Linked DNA regions of Homo sapiens: all the other regions are linked to region 1. The links come from fine-mapping of genetic effects on gene expression. A gene starts in region 1. Each other region holds a variant in brackets. All regions are shown on one strand. Distances are between the middles of the regions. Region 1 holds the start of ESPNL (espin like). Region 2 holds the start of SCLY (selenocysteine lyase). Region 3 holds the start of KLHL30 (kelch like family member 30). Region 4 overlaps UBE2F (ubiquitin conjugating enzyme E2 F (putative)). Region 5 overlaps ESPNL (espin like).

Region 1 (5,954 bases):
GCCCGAGCAGCGGCCTGCTGGCAGCAGGGGAGAAGTGGTTCTGGGTCTGGTCTGCTGAAAACGTGAGGCCCCTGTGGGAGGTCGGAGTGGACGCAGGAGGAACACTCAGGGTTCTGGGGAGAGAGCGGAACTGTAGCCAGCAGCACGTGGCCATCAAGGTCAGGGCAGAGGGATTGTGCAGGAGCACCTGGAGCGAGACAGTGGTGGGCCTGGCTCCAGGGAAAAGGAGGGGCAGGATGGGGCCCTTTGTTGGGGGGACAGTGCCCTGCTGCAGGAGGGGCAGGGGAGGAAAGGGACCCGGGTGTGATGAGGTCAGGCCCCTTGACAGAGCCCACATCTCGAGCCTCCAACAGCCTTGCTTCAGGATGTCCCCACGCAGTCATCTGTTCATGGCTAGATACTGACTGGGTCCCTAGTGTCTGCAAAGCCCCATGCTAGGTGCCATGAAGTTACCAAGTGGCTCAGGTGGGCCGCATGGGTAAGGCACTGTCTGTGTCGGCATCCGTGTTCTCCAGGACCTCAGACCCCTCAAGGACAGGAGAGCCCCTGGCCCCAGAGCTCAGTGCGAGAGGGAGGCAGTGTCACCTGGGAGTGCCAAGTGCAAGAGAACTCTGCAGGGAGAACGGGGGCGACTTTGAGCCACACCTTGATGTGGGTGATCTTAGGGGTGTGCTTGGTCTGGGAGTTTAGCAGGAGGTGGATGCCAGGCGAGGCAGGCGCACATCCGGGTGGGCAGAGCCCCACTAGGGGAGTGGTCCAGAGCAGGGGGGGCTGTGTCTCTTCCATGTGCCCTCAGCAGCAGCTGCAGCTCGGTCTCGCCCTCCCCAGGCCGTCCCCAGTGCTGCTGAGCTACGGTGTCCCCTTCGACGTGGCCAGGAACGCGCTCCGGCTCAGCGTGGGCCGCAGCACCACCAGGGCCGAGGTGGACCTCGTCGTGCAGGACCTGAAGCAGGCCGTGGCGCAGCTGGAGGACCAGGCCTAGCACTGGGGCCGCCTTCCCCACCCCGCTTCTGGGAAGCCCGTGGCAGGGCACAGGGTTGTCCCTCCAGTTCCCTCCTGAGGGCTGTGCCAGGATGACTGTCTCATGCCCCCTCTGCATTTTGTCCTGGAGTGCCAGCGAGTGTGCACCCCCAGTTTCCTTCCCTGGACCCCTGCAGAGCTCACAGGGCCCAGGACACCAACGCCGCATAGGACTGCCCACATGGGACCGCCCACATAGGACCGCCCACATAGGACCGCCCACATGGGACCGCCCACATGGGACCGCCCACATGGGACCGCCCACATAGAACCGTCCTCCAGTGGTGAAGCGGAAACACTTAGCTTTATCCACCCTCCCCACTGGGAACTGGGCACGCCTGTTGTGAGTGCCCTTTCCTGGAAGGTGTTTTTATCTGGAAGATAGAATCCAAGTATTTATAACTCATTGTCAGCCAAATGCTATCATGAACGTAGGAAACTTGATTTTTTTGTTTTGATCATGGCCTCTACATGCACCTTTCCAGAGTGGTCTCTTCTCAGGCCCTTTTTAGTCCCTTTCCAAAGCTGCCCCCACCACCCTGCTCCTCTGGCCTCAGTGCACAGTGGCCCCCAGCCTCGGCCAGGCCTGCTCTGCTCAGCGCCCACCGCCCACCACCCCTCCTGCTTCCCCGAGCCTGACCCTGTTCCGCCCACTGGCAATCAGGGCTGCGCACTTCCCTGTCCACGGTCCCCAGGCCTTCCTGTCTTGTCCCTTTTGATCATTATTAACTCAGGGTTTCAGCTCCAACCTCGCTGAGTTGGTGCAGCTCCAGGTCATTCCTGGGGTGGGAATCGGATCATCCCTGACTCAGCTTTTACCTTAATTTTATTTGCAGAGGATTCTTTTCTCAAAATGCTCTGGCATTTGGACACACATCACATGTCGATATTTGCATAGGAGTCATTTTCAGTGGAATAACATTTTTAATGTGTGGTTTTACGGTTCAAGGAACTACTTGATGATTTTGAGGAAACACTTGCCAGAAACTAAATTAACGAATAAAAGATTTCAGTGCCCGACTTGGGGATCCTGTGGTTTCTCTAGTGGGCACTGCGCTTGGGCACAAAGTCATCTGACAGAGCCTGTCGGGGGGAAGCCAGGGGTGCAGCAGCCCCCAGGTCACCATTGTGTGATGATGCGTTAGCCCAGAAATCCAGCTTGAGGCTGTGTCTCCGGAAGCCCCTACAAATGTAATGGGTCCCCCATCTGCAGCTTCCCATTGCTGCCAGGAAGAGGCTGTGGTGGTCCTGACTTCCCTAAAGAAGAACTATGGATTGTCCAGAACAATCTGGAAAGGGGTTAAATGTACTTGGGCCCTTGGGGCTGCAGCCCAGAGACTTGGTCCGTGTAGTTGGAGAGGGGGCCGAGGCAGGGGCTGACACCTTCTCGCCTCAGAGGCCTGGACACACCCAAGTCAGGGTCCTGAGCCCATTGCAGGCCCCGTGGAGCCACTGTGTCCCCAGAGATTCCTAGGAGCCTCCAGGGCCGAGGGCCGGGACCCAGAGGCGGGGCGCTCAGCTCTGTGGGTGTCAACACAGCCAAACATGTAGACCTACTGGGCACCCTTTACTTCAGACACACTGTGGTGGCGGCTGGGGGTCTGCCCTTCTGTGAGAGTTGGGGGAACTGTCTCCCAGGCCACTCGGGGCTCCTGTGAGAAGCTCAGTGGCGTGTATCCTCAGCCCTCGCTCCACAGATGAAGTTCCTGCCATCTGGACAGATCTGAGCAGCCTCAGGGCCAGCCTCCTTTCTCTGCTGGCCATACCCAGCCCTGACCTAGCCTGGTGTGGGCCTTTCCCTGTGCCCTGTACTCCATCCTCCCAGCTCCAGGCACCTGGCACCCTCACACTGTGGGAGTGGCTTGGGCAGGTCCTCAAGGCCTGTCCCCCCACCCGACCCCACCCCACCGCCTCCCATCTGCCCTGTGGCAGCTTATCGGGTAACCAGAGCCGGCAGCTTCATCCACGTCTGAAACAGGAAGCCCCAGCCTGTGCATGAGTCGCCACTGAGAGCCCGGGCCAGAGGATGGAGAAGCAGCGGGCACTCGTGGCCGCCAAGGATGGGGATGTGGCGACGTTGGAGCGGCTGCTGGAGGCTGGCGCCCTGGGCCCGGGCATCACCGATGCTCTGGGGGCCGGCCTGGTTCACCACGCCACCCGGGCTGGCCACCTGGACTGCGTCAAGTTCTTGGTGCAGCGGGCCCAGCTGCCCGGCAACCAGCGGGCCCACAACGGGGCCACCCCAGCGCATGACGCCGCTGCCACGGGCAGCCTGGCCGAGCTGTGCTGGCTGGTCCGCGAGGGGGGCTGCGGTCTGCAGGTGAGCGGGGATGGGGCAGCCTGGCTCCACGAAGCTGGCTGGGGTGGAACCAGGGAGGTGTGAGCCACGGAGGATCAGAGTACTGGCCACCCCGGGCTCCATGGCCCTGGGCCCTTTGTTTCTCTTGGGGACTCAGTCAGTGGTTACCGTCTCTGCCCCACGCCTCTCAGAGCACAAAGGCTTGAGAGCCAAGAACACCTCCTAAATTTTCTTATCACCTTCCCTGCCAGGAAGCTGGGCGTTGCCAGTGGGGGTCTTGCCAGATATCAGGACCCCTGTCTCTGATCAGGCCTGGTCCACAGGGCCTGCCTCCCAAAGGGTCTAGAAAGGGATCCTTACAGAAGCACTGTGGGAACTTGGGCTTGAGAGCTGGGAGCCTAGCCCTGGGGGACGGGAGTTAGGGCTGCTGATGGTGATCGTCTTGTCCGGATCGTTTCTACTGGGCCCCCCTCCCCTATCCTGCCTGCCCAGTCCCCTTTGTGCAGGCGAGGCCCTTAGAGCTGTCGCTCAGCCCTGTGGAGCTTTCAGGGCTGAGGGTGAGCAGGACTGACCGGCCTTAGAACGCCGCCGCCCAGAGGTCAGAGTTGAGGTGGGGGCCGGTGGGGCCTGCTTAGACTGCGGAGCGGGAAGGTTCCCCAGCACCTGGCTCGCCAGAGCACCTGAGAGTCCCGGCCCAGCATCCTGTTCCTGTCGGCCCTTCCGCCAAACCCAAGGGCAGCAGGCGGGAGCTGTGCCTGCCTGGGGATCCATTCTGACAGGGCCCTTGGAGAAGGCCCAGGTCTGCTGGACCCCTGACACCTGTGGTAGGAACGCTCCCTGGCCCCGGGACCCTGTGGCCAGCGGGAGGGCACTGGGGCAGGGGACCAGCCAGAGGTAGGTGTCCTGGGAAGCCTTTCTGACCATGAGCAGAGTGGGCAGGTGTCTGCGGGCACCCGACTGCGTGGGAAAGGGCCTTCTCCACACTGGGGACGGGCCCAGGAGAGGGCAGGGTTGCCAGAGGTGGCCTCCCAAGACCTGGACCTGAGTCCTGGCCCTCCTCTCACCTCAGTCCCAGCAGGGAGCACCTCCCTCCATGTTGCAGGCAGAAACGGAGGGAAGGAGGAAGGAGCTGGAAGCCCCTTCACTGGGTTGCAGGCAGTGTGAGCCCTCGCCCAGGGCCCACCTCCGGCAGCTGGCTCTGACCTCACGGCCTACCCCCCACTCACTGACCTACCCGGGGCTTGGTAGGACCAAGATGCCTCGGGCGTCTCCCCGCTGCACCTGGCCGCCCGTTTTGGACACCCAGTGCTGGTGGAGTGGCTGCTCCACGAGGGCCACTCGGCCACGCTAGAGACCCGGGAGGGAGCCCGGCCGCTGCACCACGCTGCCGTCAGTGGGGACCTGACCTGCCTCAAGCTCCTGACAGCCGCGCATGGCAGGTAAGGAGCCCAAAGTCCCGCCTGGGGGGGCAGCCTGGGGCGAGCTGGCCAAGGGGAGGCTGCACCATGGAGGGCCAAGAGGACAGGCTGGTGGCCTTTGAGGTGAATCCTGCAGGCGGGCATGCTGTCACTGTGGGGGTGAGCTGGCAGGAGCCAAGGGCAATGAGGCCTCTACCCACAGGCCAGGCAGTGGCAGTGCCATGCCAGGGCCCAAGGGGACACAGGCCAGTGCTTCAGCTTGGAGAGTGGCTGGGGGCGGTGACGATGGCAAGATGCTGCTGTGATGCCCAGGGCAGCTCTGGCCCCACCTGGGGGCATCTCGGGACCTAAAACAGCTGGGGACGTGGGCAGCTGGCAACCTGTGAGGGCACCCTCCCATCACCTGACAGGAGTGGGGACTGTCTAGTGGACTTGGGGACACAGAGGCTGGAGCTGCCTCTGCACTGCCCCACCCCTGTGCTGGGACCCCTAGAGCCGGGCGCTGGCCTCATCGTCTCTGGGGCCCTGTGCCCCCTGCTGGAATTAGTGGATGGGCAACGAGGAAGGACCAGGGTCAGGACAGCCAGTAAGGCAGATGGCCTCCCTCCCCACCTGGAAGCTCCTCCAGTCCTCGCCCTGCTTACAAAGGTCACTGTTGTCATAGGAACAGGCCCTCTGCCTCCTACTGTCTTGGCTGAGGGCGAACCTTCCTGTCCCCCAGGGACCCACCTACCTCTGACCACGGCTCTTCTCTTTTCGAGGCAGCATCTCATTTTCCTGTCGCTGCCCCAGAGGCCTCAGTCCCCCACACCCCCTTAGCTCCAGGACAAGCCCCGACAGCTTGCTTGTGGAATCGGGTTCTCATTCCCGGGTGTTCCCATCCTGGACTGCTTGGCAAAGGCCTTTGGGATTCGCTTCTGTGGCTTTTCTCCAGAGCGTCCACACCACCCTCAGCCTTGGCTGGCCACAGTCTCTCTCAGACCCACACGGCTTTTAAAGAAGTTTCCACCATTGAAAACTGGGAGACTTGGGCCGAGCACAGTGGCTCATGCCTGTAATCCCAGCATCTTGGGAGGCTGGGGCTGGAGGATTGCTTGAGCCCAGGAATTCAAGACTGGCCTGGGCAATGTAGCGAGACCTCCATCTCTACAAAAAAATTTATTTAAAAATTAGCCAGGCATGGTGGTGACTGCCTGTAGTCCCAGCAACTCAGGAGG
Region 2 (5,954 bases), 38 kb before region 1:
TTGAGACGGAGTCTCACTCTGACTCCCAGGCTGGAGTGCAGTGGCATGGTTTCAGCTTCACTGTGTAACCTCCACCTCCCAGGTTCAAGTGATTCTCTTGCCTCAGCCTCCCCAGTAGCTGGGATTACAAGCATGCACCACCACAGTCGGCTACTTTTTGTATTTTTAGTAGAGACGGAGTTTTGCCATGTTGGCCAGGCTGGTCTCGAACCCTTGACCTTAGGTGATCCACCCACCTCAGCCTTTCAAAGTGCTAGGATTACAGGGGTGAAGCACCGCGCCCAGCTTGCCTGTAATCTTATACGCCTTTTTAATTCCTCCTTTCTCAACCGTTTTAAGAGTTGACTGCATTCTTCATTTTTTCATATCCCATCTTTGCATTCTAACTTCCATGCCTCTCCCATCACTGAGACTTCTCTCGCTAGTTTATCAGTGCCTCCTAATTGTTACGCACAGTAGACTTCGGATTGCCTCTCAGCCACACTTTACACTATTATGTGTCTTCTTGACTTTTTTGACATTCCTTCTCAATTCCCTTTCCTTTCCTCCTCTTTTGACTGTTCTCATGCTCCTGTGCATCCATTTGCTTCTTAAATGTTGGTGGGCCCTTTGCTATTGGCTGCATTTGGCAAGAAATGAGCTGCGTTTATAGGGAAGAATGAGAGAGAATGAGTCCAGAAATTTGCAGATTTGCTGTGCTGGAAAAGCCAAGTTATTCTGGACCCCAACAGGACACAAAATAGAGAAAGCCCATGAAAAGCCAATTAAAATTCAACCTCTTGGCAAAGCATGCTTGAAACCGAATTTTGGCTCCAGCCACTACTCGTGTGAACTTGGGCAAGATGCCTTTCTGTATCTTGGATTCCTCATACATAAATACCTACCAGACTGGGTTAATCATCAAGATTAAATTAGTGAACACACGAAAAATACCTAGAACACTGCCTGGCATAGTTCAAGGCTCAATTAAAGGTAGACACTATTATGCCAAAAAAACAAAAAACAACAAAAAAAGTGACGGTAGGATGGCTTCGTGAGGATTTTTGCTCATTTCTACCACTTTCTCAACTGACTTTTCTTAATGGTTGGCGGGACACCAACCATTGGTGGATGTTTACACTTGTGACTGTCTCACAGACAACTCAACATGTCCAAAGCTAAACCCATCATCTTTCCCCCTCCCGTCTTCCCTCTTACCCAGATAAAGGCACTAACATCTTCCCAGTCACTTGTCTAATCCTTGCTTCCTTCCTGTCCCTCATGCCCCAATTCCTATTTAACGGCCTAAACAGATCTTGAATTAATCTTTCCTGCGTTTCCACGCCCACTTAGAGTCCCTCATCTCTGGCCCTATTTTCTCAATGCCCTCCCATCCTCTACTCCAGATCCCCTCAAGTCCATCCTCGATGCGTGACTCTTAACTTCACGCCATCCAGGTCCCCTATGGAGCCGCTCCGACTAACGGACGCGCAGGTCCAGCGGACCTGCTCATCACTGTCCAGGGTGGCCTGCGGGAGACCCCCGGGGCCCTGGCCCTGCTGCCGCGGCCCCGGCACTTCCCCTCGAGGGTTCGCGGGGAACAAGGCCGCGCGGCCCCGGCTCTCCCGGAGTGCACGGTCCCGCGCTCATGCGGCTAGAGGGAGGCACCCGCAGGACTGCCCAGCCGCCTCTGCTCCTCAGGTCCAGCTCGGGCCCCGCCTGCTCTTACGCCGACTAACCGGCCGCGGCCCGATGGCGGCCCTGCCGCAGACAGCAAAGGTCACGGGGCTCCCCCGGAAGTGAAAGTGCGGGGATCCGCCGGCCCAGGAGACGCGGCTTCTAGCGCCCGGTTCCCGGGAAGCTCTGTGACGCGCTAAGCCCCGCCCCCACCCGTCACCTGACCCAGCGCAGCCTCGCCTCCCCGCTGGGGGCTCGGCGGCCCTCTGAAGCGGGTGGATTGGCTGGGGTGCTTCGCTCAGCCAATCCGGACGCGCCCGGGCGTCGCGGCCCCGCCTCCTCCCCGGCGCTCTGGGCCCGTAGCGCTCCGCGGGAAGGAGGCTGGATGCCCGGCAGCAGTGGGGCGGGGATGGAGGCGGCCGTGGCGCCGGGGAGGGATGCGCCGGCACCCGCGGCGAGTCAGCCCAGCGGCTGCGGGAAACACAACTCGCCGGAGAGGTGCGCGCCTTTAGGGCAGGGCTGGGGAGCGGCCGGCGCCTGTCGCCGATTGTCCCGCGCGGGAGGACGAAGGGGGCTCCCGGCCTGTGGCCGCTCTCGCGTGGGGCGTCCCGCGCGGGGATGTCCGCGAGGTCGGCCTAAGTCAGGGATGCGAGCTTCAAGGAGGAGCGGGTGCGAGCTGTGGCCCCGCAAGGGCCCACGGAGAGGTGACTTTGGGGCCGAAACCCGAGTGACTTCCAGGGGTGAGGTTTGCAGGTTCTGGGGAAGCAGAGCCTGCCAGGAAGAGGGCACAGCAGATGCGAAGGGCAGGGGACTTGCCGGAGGTGAACCGGCAGAGCCCCTGAGCCCGGGAAGAACTTTGGGGTTCATTCGGAGCCTTATGGGGCCTCGGAAGTTGATCACGGGGCGATGCAATTTAAGTGTTTTGAAGGAGTCCTTCTGGCTGCTTCCTAGAAAGTAGGGGCGCGGGTAGGCATGGGACGAGAGGAAGCCGGGAAGCCAGTTGGGGATCTTGTAACAACCTAGGAGAGAGATGTGGTGTGCGCCCAGAAACGGATGCGTTGGTAGGAAGCTGGTGCACTGGGGCAGGTGAAAGGGAATCAAGGGTTCTCCCAGACTGCTGGCCCAGCTGCAGGAAACGGGATGGCCACCGCTGAGAAGCGCGGAGACCCGAAGCACGTGGTATCCATACTAGTTAAGTCCGAGAAGAGCAGGAGGCAGGGGTATGCATTTTCTGGTTTGTGTGTCTTCTTTCCAGACCCCTCTTTTTCCTTTTTGTGAGCTCATTCGCTACCCATGCTTAGAATATGAGGGGGTCCAGGCCTAAAGCACACACATTTGGCATTCTACCTTGGTTGGAACAAAGTGAAGGGATCTGGGAAAATATCCCCTAGGGAATCAGTGGAGCGAGATTCCCAAGATTTTTTATTTTTTGGTTATGAAGCTAACAAAGTTGAGCCTGCTCATCCAATACTGATAGCATTTTAAGGAAGCAGCAAATAATGAAGCAAAGGAATGTGTAAAGTATTAATCTGAACAAAATAGATTTGTTCAGCCCAGCAGCAGATTGAAGAGCTACAGTCGCTCAACAAACACTAGCTAGCCTAAGGTACTTTGGATGCTTATTTATAGGAAAGAAAAACAGATATAAGGGCACATGCAAAGTCAAGCCGGGCTGGGGGATTCCTAGGACTATTAATACTAGTACCAGAGTGGTAAAGGATGGCGAGTCAAACTTGTCAAAGCCTTGTACCTATTGAGTGATTTTTTTTTTTTTTTTTAATTGAGATGGAGTCTCACTCTGTCACCCAGGCTGGAGTGCAGTGGTGCAGTCTTGGCTCAC[T/G]GCAACATCCACTGCCCGGGTTCAAACGATTCTCCTGTCTCAGCCTCCCAAGTAGCTGGGATTACAGGCACGTGCCACCACGTCCAGCTAATTTTATTGTATTTTTAGTAGAGATGGGGTTTCGCCGTGTTGGCCAGGCTGACCTTGAACTCCTGACCTCAGGTGATCTGCCCGCCTTGGCCTCCCAAAGTGCCGGGATTACAGGCGTGAGCCACAGGGCACAGCCTGTTGAGTGATTTTGAACAGAAAAGATGCTTCATTTCAACTAATGCACATTCTGTCCACACTCAGTGGCTTAACAGCCACAGTTAGTCATTGTATCTGGGTTTTCATGTGGATTGGTGTAAGCACTGTTTATTTAAAAACTAGATAAATTAATATCAGGCAGGACTACTACTACACATTTTTCTAAAGGCTTTCGAAGGTTTTGGATATTAGTAAAAAGATATACAGATAAATTTTACTTAGTGAGGGATCTTTCAGGGAATTTGTACTTTCTGTGGCATTTATTTTGTCATCTTATAAAAATCAGGCCCCTGTTGTGTGGCAACCATGGGCTTCAACATTGGTGACAGGGCAGTGAGAAAAACAGAGCCCCCATGCCCATGGAGCCATACTTCTGTTACTCTATTAAGGTAGACAGTAAGGGAACAAGTCTGGTATGTCAGATGATGATGCTGCCCAGAAAGGAAGGCGGGAAGGGGACCTGGAGGCTGGGGAGGTAGGGACATAGGTGGCTGCAGTTTTGTGGGTTTGTTTTTTTTGTTGTTGTTTTTTTTTTTTTTGAGACGGACTCTCACTCTGTTGCCCAGGCTAGAGTGCAGTGATATGATCTCGGCTCACAGCAACCTCTGCCTCCTGGGTTCAAGCAATTCTTCTGCCCCAGCCTCCCTAGTAGGGCTAATGTTTGCATTTTTAGTAGAGATGGAGTTTCACCATGTTGGCCAGGCTGGTCTCAAACTCCTAACCTCAAGTGATCCACCTGCCTTGACCTCCCAAAGTGCTGGGATTATAGGCGTGAGCCACCGCGCCCAGCCAGCTGTAGTTTTAAGCAGAGCTGCAGGGCAGGGGGTCTCACAAGAGGACTAAGTTGGAACAAAGACCTAAAAAAGTAAGGTGGGGGCAGGGCATGTAGTCTTTCTGGGCAAAGAAACTGAAAGTGCAAGGTCTGGGGCCAAAGTTCACCTGCCCCAGGGAGAAGCCCAGGTCACTAGGAGCCCCACAGGCCATCGCAAAAATGAGTGTGGGGAAATAAGGCGAACCTCTGATGAAGTTAAAACAGCAGACAGGAAAGTTCCCTTGGGGAATGTGCAGCTGTTCCCCTCCTTCCATAAGGAAGAGGCCAGTGATCTGCCCTTTACAGCAGTCAGATGGGTAATCTGGGCCCAACAGACCATTAATCCTACCAAGGGGTAGAAAGAGTGTTTGTTATTAGAGACTGGGTCTGGCTGTGTTGCCCGGGCTGGAGTGCAGTGGCTATTCATAGGCACCATCATAGCTCACTGCAGCCTCAAACTTCTGGCCTCAAGAGGTCATTCCGCCTCAGCCTCCCACATGGCTGGACTACAGGCACAATCCACTGTGCCTTGCTAGAAAGAAATTTTGAAAACCGAAATGAAAATCCAAGTCCTATCAATTATAAAAGAAATTGACAAAAACTAGAGTCTTAGAAATTATGCATGCATTTTCCATAAGTAGTGTAGATCTGTAGATTCCCAAGTGCAGCTTGTGGATGCCTGCAGTGCTTATGCAGAGGATCACCATGCCCTTGACATTATTTGCTCCTGCCGATGGGATAGACACAGAGCAGCCATATTTCCCATATGCCATCTCCTTTTCCTTAATGGGTGTCTTTGCTTTCTTTCCTTCAGGAAAGTTTATATGGACTATAATGCAACGACTCCCCTGGAGCCAGAAGTTATCCAGGCCATGACCAAGGCCATGTGGGAAGCCTGGGGAAATCCCAGCAGCCCGTATTCAGCAGGTAATTCTAGAAGATGCACGTGTTCACTGATGGGAGATAATGGGGATGGGGCGCTCTTAGAGAAATTGCACACCCACACGTGACGGCTTTGTTTTGAATAGGTTTCTGTTAGCTGCAATTCTTGAGCTGTAATTTTTGATAGTTTCTTTTCTGGGAAGGCCCCATTTGTAAGCTGAGCCTTGTCGATACTGTAATCTTTAACCTTTAATGTTTAATCTTTAACATGCTGTCCTGTCACCCTTTCCCAGATGAGAAAGGTGTCTACTGAGAGTTCCTTGAAGTAGCAGTCAGTACCTGTGGAGCACTTCACAGATCTAGCTCAGTCAATCCTTACAGAATTTGCAAAATATGTCTTTTAGGTCATCAGGATAACATATAATCCTGGCCCTTTTTAAAGATGAAAATTACTTTTTCATTAATTACTTTAGTTATGAATATTCTTATTTGTTTCCAATTTATTCTTATTGTAATGTA
Region 3 (5,954 bases), 41 kb after region 1:
CATCAACAGCGAGGGCAGCACCTGTCGGTGTCCTGGCCCTGGGCTGAGGGTCTCTGTGACCCCAGGCCCCCACCACGGGCTCCACTGTACTCAACTTGTAGACGAGGAAACAGGTGGGGAAGCTGCATCCCTGCCCCCACCAGCCAGCCCAACCGCGACAGCTTTCACCTGTCCTTGCCCTGGAGCCCTTCCTGATGTCTGTCCTAGGCCACAAGTCCCTGGAAGGCCTCAGTGGGCTTTCTGAGCTAACAGTCACCAAGGAGCCGGCATCTCACTCCTTCCCCCACCAGCCCAGCCCTCACTGCCTGACCCTCCCCTCGCCCTGCAGACAGAGGCTAAAAATACCCTCCCCACGTGGCCACCAGACCAGCCCTGCCCCGCCCTGCAGGCCTCCGTGTCCCCTGGCTGCCGGCTAGGCAGTCCTGCTCTCTCGGGTCTGTGTTCTCAGCTTCGAGGTCCAGGCTGAGTGAGAGGTAGGATCCAGGGGGCTCTGGGGCAGGGGACAGCAGAGAGGGCAGGGGGAACCCAGCCAGGAGCAGCGGGGAGGGTGGGTTAGGCCCCCGAGGCCAGGGATCACAGCAGGGTGCTTTGGAGACGCCCCCTGGCCCTTGCCAGCGGCCAAGCCAGGCTCCTCAGGGTGGGGGCTCAGGAGACAGGTTTCCCTCCATGTCCCAGCCGGAGAGGTGGGAGGGGGAGGCTGGGCCACCCCTCAGATGGCAGCCAGGGCCACTCAGCCACAGTCGCCAGCCTGGCTGGGCTCAGGCCTTTTGTTGTCCTGCCCACTCGGCTTCCTCACTCCGGGCCTGGGCAGGCACTGGGGTGAGGCTCTGAGACCCTCAGGAAGCCCCGACCCATGCAGGGACTGCAGGGTGACAGGTGTCAGCAGGCACCCCGAGGCCCCCAGGGGAAGTGGGGGCGCTCATGCGTGCCTGCCCATCGCCCGGCAGCAGCTGGCCCAAGGGAGCACAACAATGACGGGAATGTGAGGCCTGCAGGCGGTGGCCCAGGGACAGCCCTGTCACCTACTCAGGCCCCAGCTCATCTCCCGGCTGCCCAGGGAGGGCAGAGCCGCCTTCACCGGGGCCAGCGCCTCCTGGGGAGGGGCCAGGCAGGAACCCCATGCATGCAGTGTTGGGTGGGTACTTCGTGTACCGGCCGGGATGCTGGGGTGTGGGGCCCCGGCCACGTGAGCTGCCCTGTGCGCGAGCCCGGGTTGGTCCGCGAGGCCCTGTGGGCTCCCAGGTGCTTCCCCGCTCTGGGGTCAAGAGGTGGCACCGGGGTCGGGAAGTCGGGGAGCCCTAGCTCCCATCGCCTGCACCTGTACCTGCACCGTGGCTGCCCGGGCCAGATTCTTGGCCTCCTGGTTCTCCAGCTGAGCTTTGTCATTTCCATGCGTGGCGTTCCCACGCATTTTGTACCTGTGGACGCGCGGCCGCCTCTCCTGCCCGGGATGGCCCCGCGAGGCGCCCCCTAGCGGGCGAACGGCCTCTCCGCTGCGCAGCCTTTCGCCCTGGGGTGACCCGGGTCGAAGGCTTGTGCACAGACTTGATCTCTCCTAGGGATGGTTGTCTTAGGGTGCGATACCAGAAGGACATAAACCACATGCACATAATTACATGAGCCTGAAAGCGGCCTTGCTGACTTCAACCATGCGGGCGTGGTGACGCGAAACCCTCCAGAACGCTGCCTTTGGCTGGCCGTTTCTGTTTAGCAGCCTCCACCCGGCCACGTGGAATGCAGGGTTCAGAGCCTGGGCCCCCAAGCCTAGCTCTGAGTTCAAATTCCAGCTCCACCACTTCCTAAATGTGTGATCTTGGGCAAGTGACTGAAACCTTCTGTGCCTCAGTCTCCCCAGCTGTAAAAGAGGCAATGATTGCACCCACCCTCCAGGACTGTTGTGGGGCTGAGTGGTGAATGCACAGCTTCTCTGCATGCTTGGCACGTGGCCTGGCACCTGGGAGCACCGCGGGAGCAGGAGCTGCTGCAGCCCCCAAATGGCCTCCCCAGCAATGTGGGATCTGGGACGGAGGACGCCTCCCGGGAGTTTGGGTGTCTCCGGGGTCCCTGGGGGGTGGGCTCAGTGTAGCCCAGGGTTGCAGATGACACCCAGGGCATGGGTTCTTTTGCCAACCCTGTTCTGCCCTGAATGCCTGGCCATGGGTAGGTCTCCCACCCTCTCTGAACCTCAATTTCCTCACTGCAAATGGGAATGACACCTGCCCTACCTTGCAGGGTTCTGGGGGTGGCTTGAGGCAGATGGGGGGTAAAGTGACTGGCATATGGTCGATGCCCATCCTGTGTTTATCAAGGGGTGGAAAGGGCTGATGGACAGACCGGGTGGGTTGCTCAGGAGGATGAGACCATCCCCACTTGGCTGACCCTGCTCTCTTCTCTCCTAGGAGCTCGGGCGGCTCCAGGCACTTCTTCCCTTGAGTGGGTGGACTACTGAGGTCCCCTGGGCACGGCGTCATGGTGCGGAACGTGGATGACCTGGATTTCCACCTGCCCTCGCATGCCCAGGACATGCTGGATGGCCTGCAGCGCCTGCGCTCTCAGCCCAAGCTGGCCGACGTCACACTGCTGGTGGGCGGCCGGGAGCTGCCATGCCACCGCGGCCTCCTGGCGCTCAGCAGCCCCTACTTCCATGCCATGTTTGCGGGTGACTTCGCCGAGAGCTTCTCTGCGCGCGTGGAGCTGCGGGACGTGGAGCCCGCCGTGGTGGGACAACTGGTGGACTTCGTGTACACAGGCCGGCTGACCATCACGCAGGGCAACGTGGAGGCGCTGACACGCACGGCTGCGCGCCTGCACTTCCCCTCGGTGCAGAAGGTCTGCGGCCGCTACCTGCAGCAGCAACTGGATGCCGCCAACTGCCTGGGCATCTGTGAGTTCGGGGAGCAGCAAGGGCTGCTGGGCGTGGCTGCCAAGGCCTGGGCCTTCCTGCGAGAGAACTTTGAGGCTGTGGCACGTGAGGACGAGTTCCTGCAGCTTCCCCGAGAGCGGCTGGTCACTTGTCTGGCCGGCGACCTGCTGCAGGTACAGCCGGAGCAAAGCCGACTCGAGGCCCTGATGCGCTGGGTGCGCCATGACCCGCAGGCCCGGGCCG[C/T]CCACCTGCCCGAGCTGCTCAGCCTAGTGCACCTGGACGCCGTGCCCAGGCCCTGCGTGCAGCAACTGCTGGCCTCAGAGCCCCTGATCCAGGAGTCAGAGGCATGCCGGGCAGCCCTGTCCCAGGGCCATGATGGGGTGAGTGAGCGGCTGGGAGGCCCCATCCCTGGGAAGCAGGGAGGAGAGCCCCAGAGACCCCACCTGAGTAGGGACAGAGTAAGGAGTGGACATTCCAAGGTGCACTCTGACCTTGCCACGCTCCTTGTTTTGGGCCAGTTCCCCATGAGGACATCACTATTCAGCCCTCAAGTGCAGATCATGCCTCTGTGTGTGTCACGCCCTGTGTGCAAGGGGCAGGGGAATGTGGAAGTGGTAAGATCTGGCCCTGTCCTGAAGGAGCCTGCAGCTCAGTGGGACAAGCCTGGAAACAGACCTCAGGCAGTGTGGAAGGGCCAAATACATGCCTAGGACGCATTCTGGGTGGGCTGGCAGTCAAGGAGGGCTCTCTGGAGGAGGCAGCATCTGAGCTGGGCCTTAGAGGAGGGATAGGAGCTCACAAGGAGGAAAAGAGGGGAAAACCATCCAGGAAGGAGGTGCAGCTTGTGCACAGGCAAGGAGGCACAGACAGGCCTGGCAGTCCGCCTGAGCTTTTATGGGGTGCTACTTCCTGTTTGTGCTGGCAGTGTGCCTGGCAGGCATGGCAGGTCATGATGGAATGACAGGTCTGGGAGTGGCTGTTCGGTCAGCTGCCGGGCACCCTGCTCAGGGGCCTTGCTTCGGGGCACTCCTTTAGAGCCAAGTCCGGGGACAAAGAGTGGCTCAGACTGATGGTCCTCAGGCCAAGGGTGGAGTGAGTAGTGGGCTAAACCCTAACCCCTGTCCCCACTGGATTCCAGCCAGTCACAGAGCGCCCGGCCTCCTGCTGGAGCTGGCTTCAGAGCCTTGCCCGTGGACGGTCACCTTGTATTCTAATTCCTGGCAGTGGGAGATCTGGGGGTTCCATATGGGGGGCCAGGGTGGATGGCTGTGGGAGAGCCTGGGGTCCTGGGAGACCTAGGCAGTGACTGCTTACCGGCCGTTCCTAAGACAGCCAGCATTTCCCACTGAGCCGGGACACCCTCGTGCCGCCTGCTGGAGGCCACCCAGGGAGCAGGGGCAGGGAGAAGCTTATGCGTGGCGCTGCGGACCTGCTATGGGATCGGTTCTGAAGATGGTTCAGGAACTCCAGGAATGCCCCTGAAAGGCACATGGTGCAAGGAGGGAGCAGCTTGTGCACTCGGGCACACGCCATCTCCAGCAACATGCAAGCACACATGCACTCACATGCTGAGGCCTGCCCAGGACACGCGGGGGCTCAGGGCATGGGGACACATTGCTGTTGCCCTGACCCTGGCCTCCCACCCCACAGGCACCACTCGCCCTCCAGCAGAAGCTGGAGGAGGTCCTGGTGGTGGTGGGCGGGCAGGCGCTGGAGGAGGAGGAGGCAGGTGAGGAGCCCACCCCCGGCCTTGGGAACTTTGCCTTCTACAACAGCAAGGCCAGTGAGTACCCCTCCCGCGTCCAGACCCACCTGCTGTCTCTCTGTCCCAGCGGGAGCCGCTGTGTCCTCCTTGCAGGTGGAGCGCATGAGGCTCGCAGAGGACCGGGAGCTGTGTGAGGCCCCTGTGAGGGGCGTGCCTGGGTGGGCCTCACCTGGGGGCTGCAGAGGAGCCCGAGGTACCCCGGGAGGGGGAAGGCTGGCGGGCACTGCTGCTCCCTCTCCCTGCAGCCGGAGCCCAGGACTCTGGTCCCTTTTAGGCCCTGGAGCCGGTGTACAGGCCTCCACGGCCAAGACTGCACCCTGTGGGGTGGGCGGCCTGGCCGCTGCCTCCTCCCCATGCTCCCTGCTCAGTGCACCTGCCGAGGGAATCGAGACCCCAAGGGGAGAGTGGGGTGGGGGGTGAAGGGGTGCAGGCAGCTGGAGGAGCGAGAACTCAGCTTCTGGGTCAGCCCAAACGGGGTTGTAATCCCGGACCTCAAACAGGTGACCTCACCTCTCTGAGCCTCAGCTTCCTCATCTGTGAAATGGGCTCCTGCTGCTTCCTCACACAGTTGTAGGGAGCCCTGAAGTGGGCACTGAGGCCAGGTCTGCCATTTGGCGGGAAAGGAGGCATGAGGGGCCCCGCAGCGGCTCTGGAGGCCCCCTGCGCTGGCCCCAAGAGGTGCTCTGGAAAGGGCTGATGCAGGCTGGCTGGTGTGGGGCCACCAGGCAGGTCGCCAACCATCTCCTTGGCGTCAGCGGCTGGCAGGCTCCAGGAAGCCTGAGGCCAGCTGTTCGGGTCAGGGGCTGAAGAGAGGGGGTTTGGGGCTGACATCAGGAGGGAGCAGCTGTCTCTCAGACCTGGCCGGGAGGTGGGGACGCTGGCAGGAAGAGCCTGTTGACGGCTGGGCAACCCCCACCCTGGGGTGACAGAGCCATGAGTCATGGGGACACGGTGCCTGCCCACAGTGCCAGGCTCTGCTCCCAGGGAGGCCTGGAATTCCGCATCTCCCAAAAATGGTCATAAATAGTAAACAGAGTCTTCCTAGGGGACATCCCAAAGGCCTGTGTCTCTTCCACAAACATCCAAAATATGTCCATTTATAGGACTTTACCATTTCCACATTTATTGTCTTGATTTTCCAAAGCATTTTCTCATCTCTTGCCTCAGTTTACCTCTTGTAGCTCCGAGAGGCAGGCCTGACTTGGGCACATTGCTCTGCCCCACGACCCTAGGAACAATAATCCTAACAGCTGTCATCAGCTGAGCAGTTCTGTGAAGTCCCCATAGCTCCCGGGAGGCTGGGGTCATCCCCATTCTACAACAAGG
Region 4 (5,954 bases), 59 kb before region 1:
ACCCAGCATGCATCCTGCTCAGACTCACAAAACAAGTGGCAGGCATGGTGGGCATGGGGAGTGGTGCAGTGCAACCAGGCGGGCAGAGCAGGCCATCTTCTGAGGCTGGTGTGCTGCCAAGGAGGCAAGCTCTGTCCTGAGGGCTGGAGCAGCAGGGGTCCTCAAGAGAAGTAGCAGGGGTGTGAGGCAGCCCTGTGCTCACAGCTCCCCATGGGGGCAATCAGTCCCCGACCCCTGCCATCCGTCGGTGGTCCTGATGGGCTTGTGTTGTCTGGTAAAGCCTTGGGCTTGGTACTGCGCTGACAAGCCCTGGGCAAATGTGCCCCTTGGCCCACCCCTTGCAGGCATTCATGGCGGCACTCCTGTCTGCTGTCGTTGGCGAGGACTAGCCCTTGTGGACCAAGCCTTATCAGATAGAAAGTGATGGCAATAGGGGTACTCCCACAGCTCCAGGTGGAGAGATGTCTTCCATTTTACCTTTCTTTGTATGAAACAAGATTTCATATTCCTGATTTGTATAAAATAGGACTTTGCAACTGGTACACTTTTAGCCCCAGTAAAATGGACCTAAAATCTCCAAACAGTGGTGCCTCCACATGAAGCCTAAGCAGTGCCGCCCCATCCCCGTCTCCGTGCGGAGTCATAGTCACAGCTGGTGAGCACCGCATCCTTATGTCCACTCGTTCATCACTTATTTGGCTGGTGACCACTTATGTGCCAGGGGAGGTGCAAAGTGCTCAGGATGACTGTGGGAATGACAGTCCTTGTCCCTGTGGCGCACACATTCCGGCAGGAGGAGGCGGAGCATAGGTGAACAAACACGGCCAGACACCGTGGCTCACGCCTGTAATCCCAGCACTTTGGGAAGCTGAGGCAGGCAGATCACCTGAGGTCAGGAGTTCGAGACCAGCCTGGCCAACATGGTGAAACCCCATCTCTAGTAAAAATAAAAAAATTAGCCGGGCATGGTGGCAGGCACTTGTAATTCCACCTACTTGGGAGGCTGAGTCAGGAGAATCACTTGAACCCAGGAGGCGGAGGTTGCAGTGAACTGAGATCACGCCATTGCACTCCTGCCTGGGCAGCAAGAGCGAAACTCCATCTCAAAAAAATAATAATAATGAAAATTAAAATTTAAAAAAATAGGTGAACAAACACAGCATGTGAGGTGGAGAGGGGGCCACAGAGGGCCGGGTGGTGAGAGAGGAGCGCTCCAGAAAACCTTGGCTGGCAGTGCAAAGGCCCTGAGGCAGGAATGTGCTGTGGAGCTCAGGGCAGAGAAAAGAGGCCATTATGACTGGTGCACATCAGAGGAATGGAATAGTAGGAGCCAGGCACGCTTCCATGCACTTGACACAGAGTGCACTTGTTTCTCACAACAGCCCCTTGGGGCAGATACCATCATGATCCCTGTTTTGCTGCTGAGGACACAGCTGCCAAGAAGCTGAGAATCACCATGATTGAGTAGCCCATTGGAGGCAGAGCCCAGGACTTGGACCCACCTCCTTCTGGCTCCAGAGTCTGTGGTTTTCACTTGGGCCCTGTGCTTTGTGTCCCTTGCAGTAGGAGAGGAGGAGGGAGGCAGCAGAGGCTGGAGCATGGGGCCTGCTGGAGCATGGAGCCTGCTGCAGGCATGGACGCCGGGCTCTATGCTGGCTGAGGTGAACAGGGAGACTAAGAGTACATGGCATCTTTTGTCCTCCAGAACATGGAGAGGCAGGGGGCATTTATGGGGTCTTCATTTTACATCCTGTAAGCTTTTGCAGGGTCCTTGTGAGCTGCCAGTATTGTCTGGCTCTGGGGATTGTGGAAATGGCCTTGAGAAGGTTTTGTAAAAGGGCAGGCAGGGTTTCTGCACAGTCCCCCTTTGTTGCGGGGTAAAGGCCCATGTGGGAGGCTCCAAACGCCATCCTGTAGACAAATAGGGCGGTTGGCAGGGCAGAGGCACCTGGGTAGACTCAGAGCACTCCACTTTCTCACCCTGAGACCAGAGCAAGTCATGGGACCGTATCCATAGCTTCAAATTGGGAACTTGCCCGCCCTGGAAAGGGTCGCTGTGCTAACTAAAAGTGTGGCAGGAGGGCAGGCACCTGGTGCCCAGCTGGCCAGGACCATGCTCCAGGCAGGATCTCCCTGCAAGAGGGCATCGC[G/A]GCAGCAGCGAGGTATACATCGAGTGCCAGGTTATACCCTGCACATTGCCAGGTGTCGGGATTATGCAGTGGAATCAGCAAACAGGTTAGACTGAGGCTTAGACAGGAGGACTGAGGCTTAGCTAAGGAAATGGAGCTCATGCCCACTAAGAACTATGGTAACTGTGCTGTGTTCCCTGGGCAGTGGGGGCTGCATGGCATTGATGGGACCGAAGCAGTGTGATCCTGCAGGGACATCTGAGACCCAGCAGCTGTGTTGTAGGAGTGAGAGGGTTAAGAGCTCCAAGTCATTCTTACGGCTCATACAGTCCCATGGGATTTTACTCCTAACCTTGGGGAGACCAGATCCAGGGACAAACCTGACAGTGGCCCAGATCCGAGAAGATTGTTCCACCCATACTGGCCTGGGGTGATTCCTAGGTCCACACCGCCTTTGGTCACTGTCCACCTTCATTTCAATGCATGAGGATGGAGCTCTGTGGCACACCCAGCTCTCTTCTGGGCAGGGTGGTCATCCTGCCCAGAAGAGATGGGGGCCTGTACATGGGCTGTGAAGAGCAGGCACATTTTAAGTAGGTAGCAGCATCCAGGGAAATCATTCTAGGAAGACAAATCCAGAAACAAGGGTCTTCCTGAGAGCAGCAGCTGTGGCTCACATCCATTGTGGCCAAAGGAGTCTTGGCTTTGTGACCTCGACCACACTTTTCTGGGCTCCACTTTCCCCATCTGGAAAATGAGAAGGGATAGGTACCCCCTTAGGGTCCCTTCCACTCAGGCCTTCCACGTGCTCCCCCCTCAACATACCCAGCACTGTGTCTTGCGTGCAGTAGGCACCCAGGTCGTGGCGAAATGGCACTCAGACTCCGCAAGGTCCCAGTCCTTCTACCACCTTGGCGACCACAGGGGACCTTGGTGCTGGTGGATCTGACTTGTCCCTGAAGCGCTGCTTCACTCACTCACTCACTCCTCCTGTTCTTCTTTCTGTCCCCAATGCTGTTACTCCACAGGAGGACTTCCGGAATAAAGTGGATGACTACATCAAACGTTATGCCAGATGATAAAAGGGGACGATTGCAGGCCCATGGACTGTGTTACAGTTTGTCTCTAACATGAAACAGCAAGAGGTAGCCCCCTCTCCCGTCCTCATGCTCCCTCTCAGTCCCCTGGATTGCCCCAGTCCTGTGACCATGTTGCCCTGAAGAAGACCATCTTCATGACTGCTCATTGTAGATGGAGAATTCAACATAAATACAGCAAGAAAATGTGTTTGGGCTTCTGAAGAGTTGTCTGCTTACCTTAACATGTTTACTTTTTTGAACTTGTACTGTATAGGCTGTTGGTGAAATTCTTAAGAAGTTGTAATGAACTCAAAATTGAGGCCAGAGCTTGCTTTCCCTTTTCCCAAACAAAATTGGTTTTCTGCACAAGCGATGCTAATGATGTGTTCAGTGTAACTCGCAGATTGGCAATAAGATACCCGCTACAAACTGTGATTGGATGCAAAATCTCTTAGCTTCTTTCACGAATGTTGGCCCTGCCTAGATGTTGTGAAGCCTCCCAGAATGCATAGAGTCATTCACTGTAGATCTCTTATTGAAATGCGTATTTTATTTAATGTAAGTATATTTTGGAACAGATTTGTAATTTGTACAATTCAATGCTTTAATTATTTTTTCTATTCTCATTTAGTTTGTATTTTCATTGTATAGAGCAGACAGAAAGATGTTGGGTCAAGCAACTATTGAAGAGAAATACAAAGAAAATATGAAAGGCACATTATTCATTTTGTCCAAATGCAATGAGAATCTCACTCTTAAAAATCAGCTCTTGCTTTCGGGTCCGGATGTGGTGAGCACATTTTGGAGCCCTTTGAAGCTAGATTTGGATGATCAAAACAAAAAGGCAGGGAGCCCATTCTAACATGCTGCCCAGAGGAAACTGGCTGGAGCCTGGACCAGCTGGGGTTGATGCTTTTGCAGTGGTCATGTGATTGTGACCTGGTAGCTACTTATCAGAGAGCCAGACCCTGCTGTCCTGGGAGACAGGAGCGATGCCTCAGGAATCAGCCCAATGTCTGATGTCACTGAGACTGTACCTGTGGCCTTCTTCTGAGTTTGCTATGGCTCCAGGCCCTGCCGGTGGGGTGAGCCTCCTAGGCCTTGGAGGACCAGGAGTCAACAGTGGCATATGCCATCCTCGGCCAGGTTAATATACTGCAGAGGAAAAGCCCTGAAGAGAGGCAAGTGGATTTACTCCAGCATGTAGACATTTGAACCAGTGAAATCAAACACAAAATAAATGTCTGTCTAGTTTCATTTGCTGCCTGCCTAACACTCTCAAACTTAACTGCCAGCTTCCTTAGACCTCTGGATTCCCCCATCTGCCATCTACTGGGTTTAGTTTGTTTTTCTTAATTTATAGAATCTCTGATTGTGAGATCAGTCTGTCACGGAGACCCAGCAGGTGAGGAATGTAGGCCTTGCTTCCTCTTTGCACCCATTAGACTTGAGGGTGGCCCCTGGCTAACAGGCCACACAGAGCAGGAAGGGTGAGATTGGTTAAAGAGAATGATGGCATCTCAGGAGCTCAGGGCTTGTCCAGGAGACACATTAATCCCCACCTCTCAGGGCCTGGGAGAGGGAGGTACTGCAGCTTCACACTTTTCCTCTGCCTAGTGTCAGAGGAACTTGCCAGCTGAGCACTAGGCTTCCTCTCTAGGCAGGGCAGGAGGCCAGCAGCTAATTCCTGCCCCCTCTGACCCAGGAAATGAGGTTCTCTGCTTGGTGCCAGTCCCAGGCCCAAGTCAGGGCACATCCCATAGTAGTTGTTCGGGCTCCCTGGAGTTCCCCAGCTGGTGGTGCAGGTGTTGATGCAGGACTTTTCAGAAGAGCGCTTCTGTGGGAGAAACGCCTGCTGTCCAGTGGAAACGTTTATGCAGTGTACATGAAAGACAGTGTGCCCTCTGGACCACACTGAAAGTGGTAATATCAGTTATTCTGACATCAAAGTATCTGCACAGTAGAAAAACACTTTGCTCATTATCAGGGATTAAGCAATTCTTTCAAAATGTCCAGATAACTGAATCATCCCATTCTGTCTAGTGGAAATCCCCCAGAGATATGTTGCGCACACACACCCCATCTTAGGAGCACACTCAGATGCAGCCCATCGCAGTAAGCAGCAGCTGTTGTCCTGGGTGCTTGGCCAGTGGGGCCCTTGGGATCTGTTGGGTGACTGTGGGACCCAGTTTCCTTCCAGACTTTTTGAATTCTTAGCATTCCCCTCCCTCTTTCACAGGCCAAAGTCACATTTCTGGCTCCAGCGCATGTGCCCCCAACCAACCGGGTACTAGTTGGTGATTTCTGATCTGTCAGGGAATGGGAATCCCTATACTCGGCCAAAAGGCCAGTCCTGGAAATAGGTGAGAGTGGGCAGGCCCTTGGGGAAGTGAAGCTCTTGGGAAGCTCTGACATCCAGTTGGACATCCAGAACCTTTGCTTCCTGAATCCTGGTTCTTGGCTGGACTCCAGAGGGTCCTTATGACTATTGCTTAGAATTTGATGCATAAGCTGTATGTTTTTCAAGCACTCCTAGAAGGAAACACTTCCAGGGTAAGCCTCTCAGAGGAAGGCTCACATCTTACCTCTGATCTTCCCCTAAATAATCACCAGCAGGTGACCATCTCTTTGCAGCCTTTCTACTAAGGAGCCAAGGCAAGAGTATTACTCAGATATTGAAAATGGATCTCAGCTGTGCCCCTCGCCTTTTCTCCCACGACTCGTCATCTGTGATGTTTCCACCAGC
Region 5 (5,954 bases), 27 kb after region 1:
AGGAGAGTACGTGCATGTGTGCAGGAGAGTACATGCATGTGTGTGCAGGAGAGTGTACATGCGTGTGTGCAGGAGAGTACGTGCGTGTGTGTGCAGGAGAGTGTACGTGCATGTGTGCAGGAGAGTACATGCATGTGTGTGCAGGAGAGCATACATGCGTGTGTGTGCATATGTGTGCACATGTCTTTGTGAGACCACAGGGCGCTGGGCACAGCTGGAAACCAGGCCCTAACCCAGTACCCGGAGCCCCAGAGCTCAGCTGCCTCCAGAGGGAGCCTGGAAGCTGAGCTTTGAGATGGGGGTGGCCCACCCAATAGAGGTGAAAGTGGGCGGGGAACCAAGGTGGGGTGCCAGGAAGTGATGGCACTCAGGCAGGAGATGACCCTGGGACAGAACCCTGATCAAGGACCTGCCCCTCTCCTGCCACCTCCTTACCTGTCCCAGCCCTTCTCAGATGCACAGGCTCCCCAAGGCTCGTCCACTGGGTGCCCCTGCCCCTGTCTAGGTGAGCAGGGAAGAGCCCACGGGGGTCCCCCACTGACCAGGCCCATTCACCCACAGGTGCCCCTGCTGATGACGCCCCCACCACCACCGTTCCCCCCACCTCCACTGTTGGCCACGAGGCGCTCCCTGGAGGATGGAAGAAGAGGAGGCCCAGGGCCAGGGAACCCCAGCCGTGAGTGCACAGCCCCAAGTGGGCCACCCAGGGCATGGGCCTGGGAGAGGGTGCCACTGGCCTCCCCTCCGAGGTCCTGGACCGGTGGGCAAGTCTGCGGGCAGCCGGGCACCCCATCACCCTCCCTCCCCAGTTGCTTCCAGGTTTCCTTGACTGTCTTTGGTGCTTTGGAAACATGAGGATTAGCATTTTCCGTGGTGGGCACTTACAGCTACAGCAACTTATCCAGGGGTAAAAGCGGGGAGACGGGCCGGTTGGGCCCAGGCCCCTTGTGGATGGGCTGCTGTCCCTCAGACCCCAGCACACCTCGCATGCATGGGCTAGCAGGGCAAGCAACAGTCCTCACGCTGTGGGCCACCACCATTAGGGGTCTGTGACCAGCTTGGAGTGGAGTGGAGTGGAGTGGAGTGGAGTGGAGTGGAGTGGAATGGAATTATCAACAGGTGCCACAGGTAGTGAGGGCGAGCTTCCTCCACGGGCCCTGCTGCGGCCCTGTACTCACATGTGGGAGTGTGCTTCTGTGTGTGATTGTGTCTGTGTGTTCTGTGTGTGATACACATAGATACGGGGACCCTTCTCTGTGTGTGATTGTGTCTGTGTGTGATTGTGTCTGTGTGTATCTGTGTATGTTGTGTCTGTGTCTGTGTGTCTGTGTGATTATGTCTGTGTGTATGTGTGTGATTGTTCATGTGTGTCTGTGTGTGACTATGTCTATGTGATTGTGTGTCTCTGTGATTGATTGTGTCTGTGTCTGTGTGATTGTGTCTGTGTGCATCTGTGTGTGATTGTGTTCGAGTGTGTGATCGTGTCTGTGATTGTGTCTCTCTGTGATTGTGTCTGTGTCTGTATTGTATGTATGTGTATGGTGATTGTGTGTTCTGTACATCTGTGTATTGTGTTTGTGTTTCTGTGCATGATTGTGTATCTGTGTGTGATTGTGTCTGTGTGTCTGTATGTGATTGTGTGTGTGATTGTGTCTGTGTGTGTCTTTGTGATTGTGTGTCTCTGTATGATTATGCCTGTGTATGTGTGTTTGTGTTTGTGTGTCTGTGTCAGTGTGTGATTGTGTCTATGTGATTGTGTGTATCTGTGTGATTGTGTGTCTGTTCTGTCTGTTTCTGTGTGTGATTGTGTCTATGCATCTGTGTGTGATTGTGCCTGTGTGTATCTGTGTGATTGTGTTTGTGTGTGTCTGTGATTGTGTCTGTGTGTATCTGTGTGTGATTGTGTCCGTGTCTGTGTGTCTGTTCTGTGTTTCTGTGTGATTGTGTCTGTGATTGTGTCTGTGTGATTGTGTGTATGTGATTGTGTCTGTGTATGCTTGTGTCTGTGTGTCTCTGCGTATGATTGTGTCTGTGTGTATCTGTGATTGTGTCTGTGTATCTGTGTGTGATTCTGTGTGATTGTGTTTGTGTATGTCTGTTCTGTGTCTGTGTGTTTCTCTGTGTGTGACTGTATCTGTGTGTGATTGTGTCTGCGTGTGTGATTGTGTCTGTATGTCTGTGTGATTGTGTGATTGTGTGTGTATGATCGTGTCTGTGTGTCTGTGATTGTGTGTGTCACTGTTATTGTGTGTCTGTGTGTATGTGTGTGATTGTGTCTATCTGTGTGTGATTGTGTATCTGTGTGTGATTGTGTTTGTGTGTCTGTTCTGTGTGTGTTTCTGTGATTGTATCTGTGTGTATAATTGTGTCTGTGTGTATGATTGTGTCTGTGTCTGTATGTGATGTGATTGTGTCTGTGTCTGTGTGATTGTGTCTGTGTTGTGTGTATGTGATTGTGTCTGTGCATGTCTGTGTGTGATTGTGTCTGTGCGTGTCTGCCTGGCTGTGATGCAGACGTGTTCTTCACTCGAGGTTGACCCTGAAGTGTGTGTTTTCATCGGGGCAGGGAGCATTGCAGGCAGCAAGGGAACCAGCTTTGGGGCCTGCAGAGCTGCGTTAGGGGCGGCCTCAAGCCCTTCCCAGCTCCTCCCCTGCTGCAGGAGGGGCCGCGGCGTGGCCCAGCGGTGTGCCGCAGGCTCTCCCATCGACCAGGCGGGGGCGGGCCCCACTGACTCCCCAGAGAAGGTCCAGTGGGGCCCCCGAGGTGTTCTGGGGCAGGGTGGGCTGGGGTCAGCTCCCAGCTCGCAGATCGTTCAGGAGGTCAGCTCTGCCCCCAGGGCCGGATCCCCGAGGCTCTGGGTCTCTGCTCCCCAGCCCTTGCCCTTTCTGCAACACCCTTCTTCTTCTTGGCAGCCATGTC[C/T]CTCAGCCCGGCCTGGCCTGGCCATCCTGACCAGCCTCTTCCCAGGGAGCAGATGACCAGCCCGGCCCCTCCGAGGATCATCACCAGTGCCACGGCTGACCCCGAGGTTCGTCCTCCACCCCTGCATTCCTGTCTCCCGGGGCCCCTAGCCAGCCTCCATTCCCATCCTCTTAGGGGCCCAGAGAAGCCCCCAGCACAGCCAGGCCTTTCCTGAAGGGTGGATGCCAGGCTGCCTGCGTCACTCCGCTGCTCTCGAGAACACCCTGAGTTCTGAAGAGACAGGAATGTCAGGGCGACGGCAGCTGTCCCCCCCACCACAGAAACACGGGGACCCTTCTCTGTTATCCCAGAGGGCTGCAGTGGCCCAGGCCCCTCTCCCTGACCTCTGAGCTCAGGGGTGCTCCGTGCCCGCTTGGAGTGCGGAGATCGCAGCAGCCATCCATGGGCAGGGCCCCGCTGCCACCGTCCTCCTCCTCAGGGCCTCGGCCAGCCCAGACCAGCAGAAGGGTCCTGCTCCCCCTTACTCTCCCTTTCCTGGGCGCCGGGCCCTTAGAAAGCCAGCCCAGACTTTCCCTGCGTGGTACTGCAGATTCTCAACCATTGAGGTGTTCGGTGGGAGTCTGGGAAACGCCACGTGGCGCTGCTGCCCGTCGTGGAGAGCTGGAGCGCGCACGGCACATTGAAGGCTCTGACAAGCCCTCCGCGGCACAGGATTGGCTGCCAGGCTTTGTCTATGTAGCTGTGCCCAGAGCAAGTTTGCCCAGGGATACGGTGCGCTCCGCGAGCATCTGCTGGGCTTGCACAGGGGACGGGGAGGGACCTCTGGTTTCATTTCTCTGCCGACAATCCCCTCACACACATCTTACCCCGCCCCCTCCAGTCCCTCCCCTCTGAGGCCTCACTCTTAAGCTGGGGATGAGGGGGTGGGGTGCTGTCCGTGGCCCCCACTGTCCCTCCTCTCAGGGCGCCCTGTTAGCGTGCCCTGGGCGGAGCCAACCCCCCACGTCCTCTCGGATCTTCCCTCCACTCAGGGCCTGGGTCCCCTTCGGGCCTGTGTGACCCACCCCCTTCTGCACAGGGGACAGAGACGGCGCTGGCGGGGGACACCTCAGATGGCCTGGCCGCACTACAGCTGGATGGGCTGCCCTCAGGCGACATCGACGGGCTGGTGCCCACGCGGGATGAGCGCGGCCAGCCCATCCCAGAGTGGAAGCGGCAGGTGATGGTGCGGAAGCTGCAGGCGCGCCTGGGCGCAGAGAGCTCCGCAGAGGCCCAGGTAGGCCCCCGGCAGGGGCGGGACCAGTGGGCGGGGCGGGGCCTTTTCCAGGTAGGTGGAAGTGGAAGTCAGGGCGCCCGAAGCCCAGAACTGAATCCAAGACCCAGGGGCCCCTCTCCTCTGTGGCCTCAGCTGCTGCTTCCGCCGGAGGATGAAGTGAACCTGACCAGAGGACTCTGAGCAGAGCCCCTTCACCTGCTCTGGAGGCATGGGTCCCACGTATCCTTCCACTTGGCGGATTTGTGGCACATGCCTGCCTGTGCCAAGCGTTGTTCTAGGCCTTCCTGGGCGCAGCGTCTAGCAGGGAAGACGGTGGCCCATGGGCAGGTGCCGGCAGGTGTGTGGGGTGCGATTCCCACTGCTGTGGAGAAAGCAAAGCAGTTGGGGGACTATGATATATGGGTGCTTAGGGGGCCCCCTCTGGGGACGTGGCCTTGAGCAGGGGCCAGAGGGAAGAGAGGGGGAGCCCTGTGGGAATTTGGGGCAAGCACCTCCTAGGCAGAGGGAACAGCCAGTGCAAGGGTCCTGAGGCCGGGCTGGCCGGGGGAGGAGCAGGAGGAGGCGCCCTGGCATGGAGTGGGCGCCTGAGGTTGGAGAGGAACCTGGCTGGGATTATTGCACCTCTGTGAGGCCGTGGGGAGCCACTGAGAATCTGAGCAGAGAAGGGCTGTGATGTGCCTTGGATTTTAACAGGCTCCCCGGGCTGCTGTGCAGACAGGAGTTCAGGAATTATGTCCTCAGAGTCCTATGATTTTGTCAAGATGATTGAGTTCTGTGCCCCCGGCCCAGCGCTGTGTCCAGCGCAATCCTGCCAGCCACATGCAGCCACTGAAATTCATTACAATTTAAGGAAAGTAAAAGTCCTGCCCCTCCGTCGCACCAGCCACCTGTCGTTTCTGTAGCCACAGGTGGCTCCTGGCTGCTGGAATACAGCCTGTCTCCATCGTCTCAGGACTGTGGGACAGCCCTGTCTGAGGGCCCAGCCTGTCCTTGCCTGTTGGGCTGGGAGCCGTAGGGGCTGAAAGCCACAGGGTTGAGAGCAGAGCAAGACGGGCAGAGCAGGTCAGGGGCTTCTGCCCTAGCTGGGAAGCCCTTTAAAGTCTTACCTTGGGGCAGGACCAGAGGCTCTGCAGAGATACTGAGAACTCAGGGACTTGGAAGCTAGGTGGGCTGATGGTGGGTGGGTGGGCTCACCCTGCTCACCCTGCCCTTCCTGTGCCCAGGACAATGGTGGGAGCTCAGGCCCCACGGAGCAGGCGGCCTGGAGGTACTCACAGACTCATCAGGCCATCCTGGGGCCCTTTGGGGAGCTGCTGACAGAGGATGACCTGGTCTACCTGGAGAAGCAGATTGCAGACCTGCAGCTTCGGCGCCGCTGTCAGGAGTATGAGAGTGAGCTGGGCCGGTTGGCGGCTGAGCTGCAGGCCCTGCTGCCCGAGCCCCTGGTCAGCATCACGGTCAACAGCCACTTCCTGCCCCGGGCGCCCGGACTGGAGGTTGAGGAGGCCTCAATCCCAGCGGCTGAGCCCGCAGGGTCTGCGGAGGCCTCAGAGGTGGCCCCCGGGGTGCAGCCCCTGCCCTTCTGGTGCAGCCACATCTCCCGCCTGGTACGCAGCCTGTCCCTGCTGCTGAAGGGCGTGCATGGGCTAGTACAGGGGGATGAGAAGCCATCCACCCGGCCCCTGCAGGACACCTGCAGGGAGGCCTCGGCCAGCCCCCCTCGGAGCGAGGCCCAGCGCCAGATCCAGGAGTGGGGGG

The links.
Region 2: its variant is fine-mapped to the expression of ESPNL in whole blood (TOPMed, PIP above 0.99).
Region 3: its variant is fine-mapped to the expression of ESPNL in subcutaneous fat (GTEx, PIP above 0.99). The same link has a PIP of 0.9 or more in liver and lung.
Region 4: its variant is fine-mapped to the expression of ESPNL in whole blood (TOPMed, PIP 0.93).
Region 5: its variant is fine-mapped to the expression of ESPNL in esophagus muscle (GTEx, PIP above 0.99). The same link has a PIP of 0.9 or more in adrenal gland, aorta, atrial appendage, breast, esophagus mucosa and fibroblasts.

What each region holds. Positions count from the first base shown.
Region 1 is chr2:238,097,374-238,103,327 of GRCh38, forward strand. ESPNL (espin like) reads left to right here and starts at 2,967. Exons shown (of 9, transcript NM_194312.4): 1 at 2,967-3,340; 2 at 4,568-4,758. The coding sequence starts at 3,047. SCLY (selenocysteine lyase) reads left to right here. Exons shown (of 12, transcript NM_016510.7): 12 at 829-2,040. The coding sequence ends at 982. UBE2F-SCLY (UBE2F-SCLY readthrough (NMD candidate)) reads left to right here. Exons shown (of 19, transcript NR_037904.1): 19 at 829-2,040. RefSeq lists enhancers at 1-143, 144-811, 812-1,480, 1,115-1,409, 5,175-5,344.
Region 2 is chr2:238,058,990-238,064,943 of GRCh38, forward strand. SCLY (selenocysteine lyase) reads left to right here and starts at 2,012. Exons shown (of 12, transcript NM_016510.7): 1 at 2,012-2,154; 2 at 5,368-5,480. The coding sequence starts at 2,066. It overlaps UBE2F-SCLY (UBE2F-SCLY readthrough (NMD candidate)), which reads left to right. Exons shown (of 19, transcript NR_037904.1): 9 at 5,368-5,480. RefSeq lists silencers at 1,422-1,631, 1,772-2,221. The variant T/G (reference allele first, on the strand shown) is at 3,497.
Region 3 is chr2:238,138,286-238,144,239 of GRCh38, forward strand. It overlaps KLHL30 (kelch like family member 30), which reads left to right and starts at 383. Exons shown (of 8, transcript NM_198582.4): 1 at 383-473; 2 at 2,400-3,243; 3 at 4,514-4,646. The coding sequence starts at 2,470. RefSeq lists an enhancer at 2,639-3,152. The variant C/T (reference allele first, on the strand shown) is at 3,107.
Region 4 is chr2:238,038,131-238,044,084 of GRCh38, forward strand. It overlaps UBE2F (ubiquitin conjugating enzyme E2 F (putative)), which reads left to right. Exons shown (of 10, transcript NM_080678.3): 10 at 3,158-4,652. The coding sequence ends at 3,208. All of the region lies in intron 7 of UBE2F-SCLY (UBE2F-SCLY readthrough (NMD candidate)), which reads left to right. Among named protein-coding and RNA genes, the nearest start is that of SCLY, 20 kb to the right of the region's middle. RefSeq lists an enhancer at 1,652-2,152 and a silencer at 4,578-4,770. The variant G/A (reference allele first, on the strand shown) is at 2,151.
Region 5 is chr2:238,124,709-238,130,662 of GRCh38, forward strand. It overlaps ESPNL (espin like), which reads left to right. Exons shown (of 9, transcript NM_194312.4): 6 at 562-676; 7 at 2,914-3,026; 8 at 3,999-4,196; 9 at 5,420-5,954. Among named protein-coding and RNA genes, the nearest start is that of KLHL30, 11 kb to the right of the region's middle. RefSeq lists a silencer at 2,697-2,756 and an enhancer at 5,656-5,954. The variant C/T (reference allele first, on the strand shown) is at 2,921.